2 linked regions of the Homo sapiens genome follow. The protein of the gene in region 1 interacts with the protein of each later gene in a pairwise test. Each region holds a gene or a part of one and is shown on either strand. Other genes may lie near its edges. The genes, in order: GABPA and ZC2HC1B.

Evidence for each region.
Region 2: the proteins of GABPA (region 1) and ZC2HC1B interact in binary tests that used the Homo sapiens proteins (3 or more experiments, as listed by UniProt).

The regions. Positions count from the first base shown.
Region 1 is NC_000021.9:25,758,924-25,762,846, reverse strand, and holds part of GABPA (GA-binding protein alpha chain), read right to left. Parts: intron 536-3,923; coding exon 482-535; intron 209-481; exon of another isoform or gene 1-208.
Region 2 is NC_000006.12:143,895,447-143,899,369, reverse strand, and holds part of ZC2HC1B (zinc finger C2HC domain-containing protein 1B), read right to left. Parts: intron 819-3,923; coding exon 679-818; intron 1-678.

The sequences.
Region 1 (3,923 bases):
AAACTATTTGTTTTCCTATTTTAACTTGGCCTTTTTTCTTCATTTCAAACCCATTGTAACTCCTCAAGTTTGTTTTGGACACTTGAATATTTTCTCTGCTGTATCCAACCTATACTGATATTTCAATTGGATGCTACCTAATATCCAGTTATTATCAGGCATGAAAGTTCTGTCAGGTATGAATGTGGTTAGAATTGTTCTTACAACTTGGTAATTAACAGTCAGTAAAGATGAAACAAATGATGTCCTAACAAATTTTGGTGAACTGAGATACAAAGCAAGCTGTTATGTTAATCGTATCATTTAAAAACACATGAGTGGATCTTATAAAGTACTTGTGTCGAGCTTTCATTCCACAGAACAAAAGATATTTTGTGTGTAGAAAAAAAATTTTTTTAAATAATTTTCCTTTTTATTACCTTGCGGTATCAAATAAACATTTCTTATTAATAAAAGGGCAAATATAGGTACAAATACTCACGTTGATCAATTGTAACTATTTCATTCATCTGTTGTTCTTGACTTGCCAATACATCTGAAAAAAACAAAAATTTTTTGTTTTTATTTAAAACCAAAAATATAAAAACCCCAATCCAATAAAACTCAACTTAATAAACATGGTTCTTTTAAAAAGAACTCCACAATTAAAACCAAAACACTGAACTGAAACTTACTGGCATAAAAACCTTAAAAATATTTGATAGTCACTTTAAAAGGAAAAGATACCTTAAGAGAAATAACACAGGGAAAAGCTCCAATGTCTTTTAGTGTTCAGTAAAGTTCTGCAGAGAACTATGGTTTTCTAAATGTAAACATTTGTATTGAAATCCACATAAAGCCATGTAAAAATATGGAAATCTTCAAGATCAGATCAAAGATAAAATATACACCAAAATTAAATTATTTAGGTACGTATCTCCACCAAAAAGGCCTCCTTCCCATTATTTGTTATAACATCCACTTTTGACTAAAGCTGCTTAAGCTTTATAATGCTTCTACTTAAAGACAGCAAATTTTCAACACAATTGTAGCAGTCCTAAATGTCTCAATTAAACTAAATAATTTCACATTTAAAAATATAGTTCCCAAAATAAAAATACTATAAAGGTCCTGAGATAAGGCTTTACAGAACCATTCATTACTTATCTGTTGTTATTCCCTACTTAGATGTTATTCTTTACCTCTCACAAGAATTGCACATCCCAGTCTCTATTACTTCAGCCTACTTTGTGCCCATCACAAATTGCATGCCTCTCTCTTGAAATTGAAACTATACCCTCCAGCAATCATTCTGGGTACTGAGGCCTGGGCTCCCAAGAAGACTCCGCTAAGGGTGCCTTGCCAGGATCCAGTTCCAGACACGCAGAGCTGGAAAAGGTTGGGGAAGTAAAAAGAGGTCAGAATCCTATCAGATGGGAGCTTTGAGGGTCTGAAGACTGAGGACTTAAGAATTATATGGGACTGGCTTCAGACAGATCTGGATTTAGTTCTTAGCTCTTACTGACTATATGACTTTGGTAAAATTACCGACCTCTTTCAACATTAACTTCTTCAAGTTTAAATTAGACACCTATACTTACTGCCTCATGAGGTTATTGTGAGGATTAAAGAAACATGTTTTTAAAAAGCACAGTGCACAAAACAGTTACTTTTTCAGTCAACTGACAACCTCACTGTTTTATCCAGACTCCTAGTTCTGAGCATTCTCCTCCAGAACTGTGGTCTCTCTTGATAAAAAAAATACGCACTTTATGTTTGTAGTAAATTTTCCTCAGAATTTTATAAAAGTTCCTCAAAGAGGAACTATTTGAGACTAAAGGAACCTAGCCTCAAAAGAGGCAAACGAAAGCATCACCATCACACAGCACAGGCATAATCAACTTGTAAAATCACCTTCTAAGTCCTAATTCTCAGATTGGAGTTTGGTCTGTTTCCTGGAAACTCTCAAGACAGAAGGCAGACCACAGGGGGAAAAAAAAAAAGTTTTTGAAAGACTGGTCCAAGACCAATCTCTTCAAAGTACAGGCACTCTGAATATCACATTCCTCCCTGAAACCTCCAAATCCTTGCTACACACAAAGTAAGCAGTCTTGAGAGGCAAAGCCCTGGGGGATATGGAGCCATTTTATGAAGAAACATTAGACACTACAGGAATAAAACAATTATTTTTCCTAAATAAAACCCTTAGCAAACTGAGAACTTCATTTGCCTTTGGTGACAGAAGACAGAGATTCACACCGAGAAGGACATCATGGAACTGGTAGTACTGGGACATTTCCTAATTATCCTCCCATGTATAGTGGGACTTGGATGTAGTTTCAACATAGGGGGGACTGCAGGCAGGTGGTGGCTCAGGTGAATAATCTCATACAAATATCTGAAGAAGGAGCCCTACCTCTTCAGTACTGCTGCTTCTTGAGAGATCACTGAGGATGGATAATAGAGGCTGGGTTATTAACAGTTCTGTCCCAGAATCAGTGCCTTTCGCAGATAGGCTGCAGACTTCTCTCTACAGAAGGGACCAGAGTACTAACTACACTGAGCTCAAAAAACCCTATTCTGAGAAGTAAGACTTGTGAATTCTAGAAAGTCTGTTAGAAATACCCTTACACATCATCCTGCCCATCTCCCAATTCTGAACTGAGCACTAGATTTCCAAAGCAGATGGGATTTCCCTACCCCGGCAGAGTGAAGAACCATGGCTGGATCACCAAGAAATTCCGTGAGACACTCATCTAGGCTGTGGGACTTTGTTGCTTTAAAAGACAAAGCAATGGTTCCAGAGCAGAGCTTTTCTGAGGAAGACTCATTCAACTGCATGGAAATGGAAAGATACACAAGACACCTTTGACTTCTGTTCTGGGAAAAGCCTATGAATAAGCTTTAAAGTTTGAGAAGCAATAAGAGAACCAGAAAGAGACAGCCACAACAAACAGCTGACCTGGGAAAGACTGGAAAAAACGTGGATTTGGGAAAAATGAAACTACCATCTATGCACTATCTTTGTTGTGTTCTTGAGATTTCTTATAAGAAAGTGTTTCAATAAACATGACTCACATGTTTCACAATTCAGAATCTACCTTATTCATTTCAAAACCTCTGCAGGGAAGGAAATCTGTGAAACCAAGGACAAAGCTTCAACCAGGACATTCAACTTACTTATCTAGTAAGAATGGAAATTGGAAATAAATGCTGCAAATACAATGAATGTACTAAGTCTTTTAGTATCATAGATACTTAAAAAAAACATCTGGGAGAATCCTCACAAGAATAAAATTATAAACAATTAAGAAATGCCTCTCTCCAGAGCTCATTTCTTATTCACCAGCAGAGAAAGCACTTTCAACTCCTCATCTCAAGTGATCTGCCCACCCCAGACTCCCAAAGTGCTGGGGTTACAGGAGTGAGCCACTGCACCTGGCCAGAGAAAGCACCTTGAATGAAAACTGCAAGCATTGAATTACGGTGGAAAAATCCCTCCACCAGAGCTCTCTCCTTATTGGGTATATAATAAAACAAAATGCTATCATTAACATTTTCATCCATAACTGATACAAAAGCAAAGTCAGAGTATGTTGTAGTCATGTGTTCTGAAAAATATGTGGGTCTGGCTAGCATTTCTGATATGCAAAACTGTCAAGGAATGGGTTGCTTTCGGTGTCTTAACAGTGACTGAAATATAAGATGGATTAAAATTCAAGCAAAAATAATTTACATTTGTGCCTTGTTTTCTTGGACAGCCAAGTAGTTTCCAAACTTCTCTCTCTCTTTTTTTTCCAATTGAGACTCTTGCTCTGTCACCATGCTGGAGTGTAGTGGCGCAGTCTCAGCTCACTGCAACCTCCGCCTTTCAGGTTCAGGCTATCCTCTCGCCTCAACCTCCCAAGTAGGTAGGACTACAGACACGCACCACCTTGTCCGCC
Region 2 (3,923 bases), on another chromosome or scaffold:
CACTTAAAGTATCCAGACCAACTTTTCATGGCATCTAAGCCACGTCTATGAAACTAATAGTTTTTATGCTATATTGTAAGTATGTACCTGAGACCTTCGACTGTATGGTGCTGTTTGCTGGCTCCAGTTCTGTGGTTTATAAATCTACTGTCTTCCACTTCAGGTTGTTATTTTACTGATTTGCACCTAATGTTAACAGCTGCTTCCATTCATCCACATATCCCTTTAACTTGCTGATTCTGTGACTTTAAATAAAAGGTGAAGACCCCTCCTCTATAGAGCAAAACACATGACCTGTGGGGCAGTTGCCTTGGGACAGCCTGTCCCACTCAGGCAGTTTCACTTCAGGTTCGCAATTCTTTTCTGGGTGATTAAGGTTGATACTGTTGGATAAAGAGTTTTGCCATAATGCTATAGAAACACTATGTATTCAAGTCTTCACCCAAAGAAGCTTCAAATACTTTAGAAATATTTTTTTCTACAACACCCAAAGGTGCCTTAGCTGGAAAGCATTCTCCTGCAAAAGAAGTCAGCTCCCACAGGGGTGAGCAATCATGATCAGCTCTCTTCACGCTTACACTTCTTAGGATGGGTAACTGAGGTTCTCTAGGGAGTTCTACCGGCTCACCCCTAGGCATTCAAGGGCACAAGAGCCAACACCTGGGGAGAGATAGTTACCTGAGCTCTGGATGCCAATTTGGCTGCTGTCTGAGCTGGATTAAAGACTCGGCGAGAAGACTGATCCTTGCAGAAATTAGTATGTCGCTCAGCTGCGCTTTCATTAAACCTTCTCATACAATATGGACGTTGAATATAATCTGAATGTAAAGATAACAACAAATGGCAATTAGCACTTCAAAAACAACTATAGAATACTATAGAATTATAGAATGAACTACATGAAGTGAAATAAGGATATGATGGCTCATGCCAGTAATCCCAGCACTCTGTGAGGCTGAGGTGAGTGGACTGCTTGAGTCCAGGAGTTTGAGACCAGCCTGGGCAACACGGCAAAACCCCGTCCCTACAAAAAATTAGCCAGGTGTGGTGGTGTGTGCCTGTGGTTCCAGCCACTTGAGAGGATAGCTTGAGCCCAGAAGGTCAAGGCTGCAGTCAGCTGTGATCATGCCACAGCACTCCAGCCTGGGCAACAGAACAAGACCCTATTTCAAATAAGTAAATAAATAAATATGTAAGTAATGATATGAACTCTGCTCCAACATGAAAGAACAAGGTCCCAAACTCTGGTTTGAGACTATTCCAAAGGGCAAGACATGCAGGGCTCAACTAAAGGACATGGCATGGAAAAATGTCACAACCTGTGCATTCATTTCAATTGTCTGTCCTTGAAATGTTTAAGTGATGTACTTTTCCAGAAAAACAAAGAAAATTAATCTTAAGAACTTCTCAATGAAATGAATTATTTAGTAAATCCTGTGTAAAGAAAGTAGTTCTAGAATCACAGAATGTTAGTATTGATGGCACAGTAGGGCACAGAATATTCAAAAGCATAGGTTGTAGTGCTGGGTGGGTCTTAGAGAAGTTACAGAGTTACAGAGGGAGATGGGATGTTTCAAAATGTGGGTTTGGGAGATATGAATGGAAGTCAATGGGACTGTGTCACTGGCAGAAAGACATACTGCTTTTGCAGTGGCTAGATTTTTTTTTTCACTTAACTACTAAGTGAGCAGGCAATATATTCAGGAAGGAGATAGTAATAGGATAAAAGGTGAGGACTCAAAAAACAGAAAAGGGAAAGAAGGAGGGATGATAGGAAAGTTCACCGAAAACAGCTTCAGCTTCCAGAGATGCAATGGCCCAGGCAGCTCCTGTCGGCCCCAGGTTCTCTGTGGTTCTGTATAATATCTTTTTTTTCTTCTTTCATTTGCAATTAACAGACATAATTGGTTACGGAGAGAAATGAGAAGTGGGAAACAGGCAAGATCTTCTTAGAATGTGGAGCTGCTCATAGCAAAACTAGGTTGGCAACTACCCCTCTAAATCAAGCAGGGATTGGTGTTTGCTTTGTTTTGTTTCAGGCACCTTAAAGGGATAGCACACTAGATATCAGCAACATAAAATAATCCCACCGCCCCGACCCCAGGAAGGGTGTGAAACTGCATCAACCTCAAACTCAGTGTAGAACTTGTGTTAGTGTATAGTCAAAATTCCTACATGCGTGGATGGGTATTTCATGTAGTGATGTTAAGAATTTTTTGTAAGCCACCTTTTTAAGCAGTTTGGGGAGTTTCCTATTTGAACAAATCATTTCCTAAAATGTATATTCATAAGATGTAACAATTGTTAAGCACTTAGGAATTATCTGGTAGCCTTATCCTTTATTTCTTACTCCATCCAGAAGGCAGTACCTCATCATTAATTTAACACTGACTGAGCATCTACTTGGTGCCAGGTGCTGTCTTACACCTGGGGATGCAATGTCTCTGAAATCAAGGAGTAAGCATTCTAGCACAGAAACAAATAAATAAAAATTTCACACGGAGATAAATGCCTTGAAAAAAAATAGAACAGGACAGCATTGGGAAATGATAAAAAGCCCAGTGCTGGAGCTTGCCTGACTGGTTTTGAGCCTGAGTTCTTTACTTGCTATGTGTGTGAACTCGGGCAAGTTACCCAACCTCCTTAAGCTTCCATTTTCCCAGCACCTACATATCACCTGTTTCATCGGGTTGTTGTGAAAGTTAACTATGAAAATCCACATAAGGGCCTGGCACAGTGGGCGGGGTGGAACATACTAAATGTTTTGTAAATGCTAGCTATTGCTATAAGGAAACAGGTTCAGCAAGGTTGTGTTTCCAACTACCAAATAGAAGTGAAACTGCCTAGGAAAAAAGTACAATAGAAAGTGCCATTATCATTCAGAATTCATTTACAATGGTTTAGAAGAACCATCTAGAACATGGCTTTTAGCTTGGTGGTTATTTCTTCAATTTTGCCAGCTGGAAAGTGAAGTCTTACATAAGAAATGCTGCAACCATAAACCCTACTCACATTAGGCAAAGACAATGATCATGGCAATACTGAGTTGCTTCCTTAATCCCACTTGCTCATTCACTCACTGCCACCCTTCTGTGTTTGGTACTACATATCACCATGGAGACAGCAAAGTTGAAGTCTATTTCCCTGCCAATGAAAATCTCAGAGATGATTAGGCAAACAGACAATTACTGCTTGGTGGGATAAACTGTAGAAGAAGAGGCACTAGGGCCTCTGGGACCCTACAGAAGGAACATAAGGCCCCACCAGAGGGGCAGAGAGCAGGCAGGAGAGAGTCCTGTGGCTGAGCATTCAAGGTTGCTGATTTCTATTTATGTTGAACTTCACATATTTTGAGAATTGTTGTATTTTCTGCAACAATAATCTGAACCCAGCATAACTGAGCTACATGTTCTACACTCAGCTCAATCGGAGTCACCTCTCTTCCTCTATCAATAATGTTTTCATAAAATCACCATGTCCTATTTATTTCAATAGGTAATGATTTTAAAAGTCAGAGTCCAAATGAATTCTTTCGAGGAATATGGTGGCCAGATCTCAGAGAAAAGTGGAAAACCAAGCATTATTTTAAAATGCCAATATTGTGCTGTGTATCCGTGTCTATGTAGCTATGCAAAATGGTAACTGAATGTCCCAGGCCTCATAGAAAAATAACAATTATAAATATTCTATATCACTGTCCCCATAAACTGTCACAGTATCCTAGAAATTTAAATCATTGACAGACTTAGCTAAGTCACTAAAAAGTAGAATATAGGCATGTCTCAAAAACTGAATCATGAAAATAGGGAATCATGCTGAGGAAAAAAGGGAAATTACTGGCACATTCATGCATGTTAGGCCATGTTATATATAACTCTAGTTATATGTATATAAATTCTTTAGTACTGGCCGGGTGCAGTGGC